Linked DNA regions of Homo sapiens. The protein of the gene in region 1 purifies or fractionates together with the protein of each later gene. This does not show direct contact. Each region holds a gene or a part of one and is shown in the gene's direction. Other genes may lie near its edges.

The links. The genes of interacting proteins can lie anywhere in the genome.
Region 2: the proteins of CDADC1 (region 1) and BLTP3B purify together in Homo sapiens (affinity purification with mass spectrometry, with the first as the bait; one large-scale study listed by BioGRID). This does not show direct contact.

Annotation. Positions count from the first base shown.
Region 1 is NC_000013.11:49,271,101-49,276,562, forward strand, and holds part of CDADC1 (cytidine and dCMP deaminase domain-containing protein 1), read left to right. Parts: intron 1-3,190; coding exon 3,191-3,240; intron 3,241-5,462. UniProt on the Homo sapiens protein: Catalyzes the deamination of cytidine and deoxycytidine into uridine and deoxyuridine, respectively. May play an important role in testicular development and spermatogenesis.
Region 2 is NC_000012.12:100,087,375-100,091,048, reverse strand, and holds part of BLTP3B (bridge-like lipid transfer protein family member 3B), read left to right. Parts: intron 1-1,953; coding exon 1,954-2,134; intron 2,135-3,674. UniProt on the Homo sapiens protein: Tube-forming lipid transport protein which mediates the transfer of lipids between membranes at organelle contact sites. Required for retrograde traffic of vesicle clusters in the early endocytic pathway to the Golgi complex.

The DNA of each region.
Region 1 (5,462 bases):
TCCATAGAGATGTCATGAAAAGTATGTTACTAGCCAGGTGCGGTGGCTCCCGCCTGTAATACCAGCACTGGGAGACTGAGGCAGGAGGACTGCTTGAGGCCAGGAGTTCCAAAAGTATGTTTCTAGAATACCCGAAGGTAGCAAAAAAGTGGAAAAAAAAAGTGTTTAGACTCTTGGGGAAAAAAGAGCAGGAGGAAGGCATCAAAAATCTTATCTATCTGCTTTAAGTACTGAGTTGTGATCTCTTCGTGTCTTGCTTTCTCATCAGATTAGGTGTTTTCCAAAGCTAAGGATTATGCCTTCCTCCTGGGCCACAGTACTGATAATGAGAGTAGGCTGGAGTAATCAAGAAAGTTAACTTTTAAAACAGAACTCAGTGGTTCTCAGATATGAGTATGCCTGAGAATCAAGGGGGAGCTCAGGAGTAATGCAGATTCCTAAGCCTTGCCTGCCTCTCTCAGAGAGGTTGATTTAGGGGACTTCCATGGAAGCCAGGAGTTGCCTCTTTTTTTTTTTTTTTAAATTTTAAAAACAAGCATCCAGTAATTTTGATGCAAGAGGACTGTGGAGCACCTTGGACACTGACATGACCACAGGATTGGGAGCTAAAATAACCACACCTGTGTTCTAGAACAAAAAGTTCCCCTCTGATTTTCAGTGATCAAAGAGCCCCAGGAATTTGACTCAATGATTGTAAGTTGACCTTTCCTTCAAAGTTGTACAGAGAAAACCCTGTGAATGACCAGATCATAGGGAGCAATTTCTGTAAAAATTATAGACATGAAAAGATTTTTGAGAAATTACCTCATCTGTCACCAGCCTTGATGCTGAGTGACATCAAATCTGTTTTATATGGATGAAAATTTATTCCTATTTTAAAAGACAAGTAGTAAAGAATATTCTCTTGATGTAACCAACCTTAGCTAGGCAGCAGAGCTGCATGCTGATGGAAAAATCACATTTTTTTTTTCCTCCTAACAAGGTTTAGTCTGTCCCCAGGCTGAAACAGAAAAAGTGGCTTCTGTGACTAAGAAACATAACATTAAAAATATGCAGTGTTGATGGTAGAAAAGGGGGCTTTTAATATGGAGAATTTTTATTCTGGTTTTTTATTTTTTCATTTTAGATTTATGCATAAATTAAATAAAACTTTAAAGATTTTGGTTTTGCAGGCAAATATAATCTTATGTTTATAACTTCTGCCACTTACCTTAGAAATGAGCATAAAGCCATTGATTTGTATTCTTGCCCACTCATGTTAAACTCTAAAGGTCTAGGAAGGAACCCAATTTTGTTTACACCAAAATCCCTTTTCCCTCTACTCTGTAGAAGGAAGTCATCTCGTGCACTCTGCTGTTCAGCCTCATTTATTTCCTTCAGAGCACAGCACATAAAGTACTGTTTGTTTCCTTGTTGCTGTTCTCCTTCACCATCCAACTGTAAGTCGTATGAGGAAGGGACTACAGTTTCCCTCACCACTGCATCCTCAGTTCTCACAGTACTTGGAACATAAGAGGCATTCAATAAATGGAAATTTTTGTCAAGGATTTCTTTTTCTTTTTTTTTTTTTTTTTTGAGATGGAGTTCTGCTCTGTCCCCCAGGCTGGAGTGAAGTGGTACGATCTCAACTCACTGCAACCTCCGCCTCCCAGGTTTAAGCAATTCTCCTGCCTCAGCCTCCCAGGTAGCTGGGATTACAGGCATGCACCACCACACCTGGCTAATTTTTGTATTTTTAGTAGAGACGGGGTTTCACCATGTTGGCCAGGCTGTGTCAAGGAATTCTTTATGTCACGGTGCAAGGTGGAGGAAAGGCCAAGCAGGTTGGATCTGGAGGGCTAAGTTTTAGTCTATTTCTTTGCCTGTTTCTGCATCTAGAAATGGAAATTTTATCTGCTTTACCTTTAGGGTAAAAATGAGATCATGAATAAACATGTTTAACATAAATTATACAAATGCTTTGTGGTATAATTTTGAAAACCAGGGTTTGCTTGAATTTGAGATGGGAAATTTTATTAGAGTATCATAACTGTTTTAAAGTTAACCTCTTAATAAGACATTCATTCTAGTTTTTAATGCAATTGTGGCACAAATTTTCTTTGTACCTTTACTGGAAAGTAGGTATTTAAAAATGTTATCATTGGAGGGATTCACTTTTAGGAAATTGTAGGGTGAAACCACGGTTTCAGTTAATCCTCCCCAAAATGAAAATGCCTTAGGGTAAGTTCACAGATAATTGTTATTTTCTACGTGTAAATGTGCCACTTAACTACCTTAGTCCCTTATTAAGATTTTGATAAATACTATGGTTTTCATAATTAGTGTAATTTGTCTTAGAAATTTGAAACTCAACATTGTATAGAAGGAAAAAGTAAATCCTTAATATGTAGAATTTCTATTTTGTTTTTTAATTTTCTGTTTCAGATTAATGGTTTTAAGAAGTACAGCTTTACTTTTGCAAAGGTTTTGGTTCTACAGGGAAATTATAATCTTATGTTTGTTTATAACTTCTGCTATTTGATTTAGAAATGGGCAAGATGTCATTAACTTGCATTCTTTTTCCCTCAAGGTAAACTGAAGGTCAAAGAAAGGACAACATTTTGTTTAAATCAGAATTCTCTTCATGTACTTTCTAGCAATAGATAGATAGATCCATAAAGATTTGTTTATGTTCGTATGAGAAGTTTGAACTTTTTTCTTAGCAAGAACATTTTCATAAGATATATTTTCCATGATTAGAGTATAAATAATGCTGGGAAAAGACAAATTTGGTTGTTGTGAACAGTTATTACACAAAATCCATTAGTTCTGAAACCTTTATTAAATTTTATCACCTATCAGAAGTAGTTGTTTAGAAACCGGCTTGTTAATGGAGAATCAATGAAGTTGCACTTAGTTCTGGCTACAGCTTTGAGGGACCTGACTGTGGACACTGCCATTTAGTGGCCTCCACATACGTATGTGTGACTGAGTTGGTAGTGACTCTCTCTAGTTATTTGGTACCTAGCTCCCATATTCCATACTTAAAAGTGTTTATTTTAATACTTTTCTGTAATTAGTGAAGATACAAGGATTGCTGCTACATTTATGAAGTATGTTTCAATACAAGTTTTTATTACTTTTGGAAAAATATATTTCTAAAACTAACATATCATAATTTTTACTGAGTTAAATGCCATATATCTTTCAGAGGATCATAAAACAGGAGTTGGGGCAGTCATTTGGGCAGAAGGGAAATCTGTAAGTATGAAAACAATTCTTTAAATATTTAACCTGGATTTTGTTTAAACATAGTTCAGTCTTCGGTGCATTACAGGTTACTGACTGCCAAGGCGGGCAGATCACAAGGTCAGGAGATTGAGACCATCCTGGCTAACACAATGAAACCCCATCTCTACTAAAAAAAAAAAAAATACAAAAATTAGCTGGGCGTGGTGGCGGGTGCCTGTAGTCCCAGCTACTCGGGAGGCTGAGACAGGAGAATGGTGTGAACCCGGGAGGCCGAGCTTGCTGTGAGCAGAGATCGTGCCACTGCACTCCAGCCTGGGTGACAGAGCGAGACTCCGTCTCAAAAAAAAAAAAATATTAATATTTTTGTAATGGTGCATTTATGAAGATCTATAAAGATTTGCTCATCCCTCAACAGTTTTCTAGATAGACGCATTCATTCAGCAAACATTTGTTAAACACTCTCTACAGGTTAGGCACTGTGCCACAGTGAATGCTGGGGATTAAAGATCACATTTTATGGCCTCATAGTTTAGTGATGGAGATGTAGAAGTAAAATATAACTGATATGTAAGTGTAATTATAACTGATATCATGAGAACATAGAGGAGGAACCTTTGCTTGGAAAAATAAGTAAATACTGTTGGTGAATATTATTAATGTTACTAATATAATATTCTTGAAGAATAAGATAATTTCTTCAGACAGAGCAAGTCAATAGGACCAGGAGGATAACATGAATATTCTTGGTGAACATTCTTTTTTTTTTTTTTTTGAGACAGAGTCCCCCTCTGTCACCCAGGCTGGAGTGCAGTGGTGCAATCTTGGCTCACTGCAACCTCTGCCTCCTGGATTCAAGTGATTCTCATGCCTCAGCCTCTTGAATAGCTGGGACTATAGGCATGTACCACCACACCTGGCTCATTTTTGTATTTTTAGTAGAGATGGGATTTTGCCATGTTGACCAGGCTGGTCTTGAACTCCTGGCCTCAAGCAGTCCACCCTCTTCTGCCTCCCAAAGTGCTGGGATCACAGGTGTGAGCCACCATGCCTGCCCTGAATATTCTTAATATTAATATTAATAATGTTAAAATTCTTGAAGATTAGGAGGATATCATCAGGCAGAGCAAGTTAATGGGACCAGGAGAATAACACACAGAGACTGGGGTGAGAGAGAGAATATGGGAAAACGCATTTGATTTGGCACATAGAGTAAGCAACAAAGTGGACGGGACCATGAAGAACTCTATATTCCATGTAAAGATTTTGGACTTTATCCTGGCAGTGACATACTATAGCACAGCACTAACCAGTAGAGAGAAAAGGCAAGGCTCAAACTGAATTTTAAATTTTCTAGGTGTTATATATATATATATATATATATATATATATATATATAGAGAGAGAGAGAGAGAGAGAGAGAGAGAGAGAGAGAGAGAGAGAGAGAGAGAGAGAGAGAGAGAGAGAGTCTCACTCTGTTGCCAGGCTGGAGTGCAGTGGTGCAGTCTGAGCTCACTGCAACCTCTGCCTCCTGGGTTCAAGCAATTCTCCTGTCTCAGCCTCCCCAGTAGCTGGGACTACAGGTGTGTGCCACCACACCCAGCTAATTTTTGTGTTTTTAGTAGAGATGGGGTTTCACCATGTTGTCCAGAATGGTCTCAATCTCTTGACTTCGTGATCCACCTGCCTTGGCCTCCCAAAGTGCTGGGATTACAGGTGTGAACCACTGCAACCAGCTGGAGCCATGTTTTTAAAAGGAAGACAGATAAATTAATTTTAAGAAAATATTTAATCATGTAATCAATAAAAAATTATTGATGAAATATTCTGCATTTAAAAAATATTAAATCTTCAAAATTCTATGTGTATTTTACACCTGCAGCACCTCTCAATCTAGACTAACCACATGTGGCTAGTGGCGACTGTATGGGACAGTGCATTCCAAGAATGTTCTAAGTGGGGAAATGATTTGATCAGATTTGCATTATAAATAGAATGAGGTAGGGCTAGACAGAAAATAAGGAGATTAATAAAAAGAGATGAGGACTTGGAGATGTGGGGATGGGTTAGGAGGCTAGAATCAAGAGATATTTAGTAACTATATAGCTGACTGAAAGGTGAGCCTACATTTTGCCTCAGGGACTTCACAGAAAGTAATCTGACAATTTGCTTTGATGTTTCACAAACTCCTCAAGTTCACTCATCCAGTATCTTCCCTGCTAACCTCCTCCCTC
Region 2 (3,674 bases), on another chromosome or scaffold:
CCTCAAAAAAAAAAAAAAAGGATTATTCATGAGGCAGAGAGCTTATAGTGGCCCATTTTTTTTCTTCCAGAAATAGCATCCCAAAACCTGACTTTACCATAGTATTAAGAAAAAGGTTTGTAGGTAGATAAATGTTTATATTTTTATTTTTATCAGTATTTATCTTGATAAGAGAGAAAACATAATGAAAGAAGTACCGGAGAGTATTTTAAATAGCACCATCATAGACATAAATACAGTCTTGTTATAGCTTTGAAAATGGGAAAAGCAGGAGAAAAAGTGTTTGATATCAGTTTAACAATTAATTAATAAAAAGTTTTCTGGAGTCTATAGTATTTAACGTTTTACAGCTATATTTCACTTTGTTTCTTTACTTACCTTGGGCTGCAATCATTTTCATGAAGAGATTCTCATTTACTAAGTATACTTTGCAGTTCTTTTACAGTATGATCATAGTTCTTCATAGATGTAATATGTGTAAATATATATACATGCAAAATACATATACTTTGATTTTCTTTAATTATCTTTAGTTAATAACTTGTTCTAAATTTGAACATTGTTAATTTTTAAAGTGGAAAATTTGGTCTTATAATTATTATAAAAATTCATCTACAGTTTTGTGGCTCATATGTCAGATAATCTTACATTATAGTTATGTATACAAAATAATTTTAGGCTATTAGAGGTTCATATTTATTTTTATATATCAACAGGGTTCTATACTATTTCTCTTCAGGGAGAAAAATATTTGAACTCACAACCTATTTATAAATCCTGTCTCCTTTCTGGCTTCTTTAGTTATTCAAGTTCAAAGGACATACCACATCTTTTAGGAGAGGCACCAGAGCACTTAGAGTACTAAATAATATCACAGGGGCTTCTACAAAGATGTGCTTTATTTCTATAGGATATCATATTAGTCCCTTTTCACGCTGCTGATAAAGACATACCCGAGACAGGGCAATCTACTTACAGTTCCATGTGGCTGGGGAAGCCTCGTAATCGTGGTGAAAGGCAAGGAGGATCAAGTCCCATTTTACATGGATGGCAGCAGTCAAAGAAACAATGAGGAAGCTGCAAAAGCAGAAACCCCTGATAAACCATCAGATCTCGTGAGACTTATTTACTACCACCAGAACAGTATGGGGGAAGCCACCCCCATGATTGAATTATCTCCCACCAGGTCTCTCCCACAACACGTGGGAATTGTGGGACTACCATTCAAGATGAGATTTGGGTGGGGACACAGGGCCAAACCATATCAGATATATAACAGTGTATACAGGGCCCACATTTGTTTTGTTTTTAATATATATAATATTCAAATAAACTGCCTTTAAGAGTTAACTACATTTTCTAAAACAAGGGCTATAAATATGTTAAATATAACTTCAGATATTTACTGAGATATATTGGGTTCATATTTGATTTGTGTATAGTTTTACAGTTTTTTTGTTTGTTTTTTTGTTTTTGTTTTTGTTTTTTTGAGATGGAGTCTCGCTCTGTTACCCAGGCTGGAGTGCAGTGGCACGGTCTCAGCTCACTGCAGCCTCTGTCTCCCGGGTTCAAGTGATTCTCCTGCCTCAGCCTCCCAAGTAGCTGGGATTACAGGCATGCGGCACCACGCCCAGCTAATTTTTTATATTTTTAGTAGAAATGGGGTTTCAGCATGTTAGCGAGGCTGGTCTTGAACTCCTGACCTCAGATGATTCGCCTGCCTCGGCCTCCCAAAGTGTTGTGATTACAGGCATGAGCCTAGTTTTACCGTTTTTAAATTTTAGTTTTATTCTTAGGTAATTCAGAAAATATTTTAGGGAAAATATATTATTGATGAAAAATAAGATGTACTATGGTTATTTTTCATGACTTTCGACTGAAAATACTTAGATTTTTGTGTGAAATTTCCAGTATTTAAATTGGCAGTGATAAGGCAGTTTCGAATCTTTTTAGAGCTCTACAGTAGTCGCATCTGCCCAGCAAGTGAAGACAACGCAAACTTCAAATGCTCCTGATGTAAATGATGCAATTGTGAAACTATTCAATGATTTTGATGTTAAGGAAACCTCCCATCATTTAGTGATTTCTCATCTAGATCTACACATATGTGATGACATTCATGCTAAAGAAAAAGGTAAAATAACTTGCTTATTTCAAACTATTTTGGTTTTTCTAGAATTGACTACAAAACTGGATTGTTTATTAAATCTGTTGTGTAGGATGTCCTGTAAGATAATTTGTCATAATTGTGTTCATATGAATATATAGATGAAAGGCACAACTGGAAGCATATATTGGTATGAAATTTTATTTTGCTTTAGCAGTACTTAAGCTTAATTATTTGTTAGCTATCAATGCTAACAATAAAATTAGCTTTAAAAAAATCAGACTGAATAGATGATCCTCTAGGAGGATGATGAAATATTAGACTCGCCTTTGAATTAACTTTTTGATAATGTTGAAATTGTCTCCAAATTAAATTTTAGTCCATACTTAATTCATAATTATTTGTAGATGTGTTTTCAGCATTGCAGTTTTTCTACCTATTTTGAATAGAAGCACAACTGTGCAACTATTTAACATATTTTATGGCCACCTCTCTTCCCATCCTTCCAAAATTTGATTAGGAAGCAAAATTCCAGTTAGGAATTTTCTTTTAGTTTTTGTCCCTGTTATTTTTCCTTATTTAGTAGATGTAGTTCTGTAATCTAGGCGCTGGGCGTTTTTGTTTCTCTGCTGGAGAGCATCCCTGGCCCAGAAGTGTTGGGGTTGAGTTCAGCAGGTAGGCCTACCTTAAGGACTATAATTCTCAAACTTTGGTGAGCATTAGAATCAGGCTGAAGACCTTTAAACAATAGAGTTATCTGATCTCTGTGCCTCAGATCTGAATCAGGATCTATATCTACAAAAATTTTTGCCATGTGTTTTTAAGCTGAGAAAGTGAATATTGAGACCCTGGATACTTAGCAGTAGAAGTTACCCTGCCTTCATTAGACAAGGCAGCCTAAAAGATTCCAGCCTAAAAGGTTGGAGGGGCAAAGGTGAGGAAGATTCGGGGTTTGTGGAGGGATTTGTTATCTTTTGTTCTGACTACCATTGTGTCATTTGACTTATAGTTGGCATCTTTTACTTTAGAGATTTGAAAGGAAAATCCAAAAAAGTTAGAACAAACCAAACTAAGAAAATGAGGTGGTCAAGATTAAGTAGTAAGAATGAGAATGGAGAAAGTGTTTTCTAAGGCCTTACATTCCTCACTATTCCCTGATAGAATAAATTGAATGATTTTATTTAGGAAGAAAACCTTTTCACCAAAATATCTCCTTAATAGTACAGGTCTGTAATCACTATTGTGAAATCCAAAAGGCTCTGAAATATTATAAGTTTGTGAAAAACTCATTTGGTGGCAAAACCTGACTTATGCCAATACTTTTTTTTATTCTTTGCCTGCTTCCTATAAATATTTATGTTTTGCTGCAGAATTGCTATTTTTATTAGTGCTGCCTCAGAACCTGCTGAGAGTGTTGCATGGTATATCCTGTATATACCGTATCATATTACTGTCGTGAAATCTAAACATTTCTGAATTCTGAAACATTTGGCTTTCCAAAGGTTTTACGTAAGGGATTGTAGACCTGTGCTGAAAATTCTACTAGTTGAGATAAATTGGATTTTAC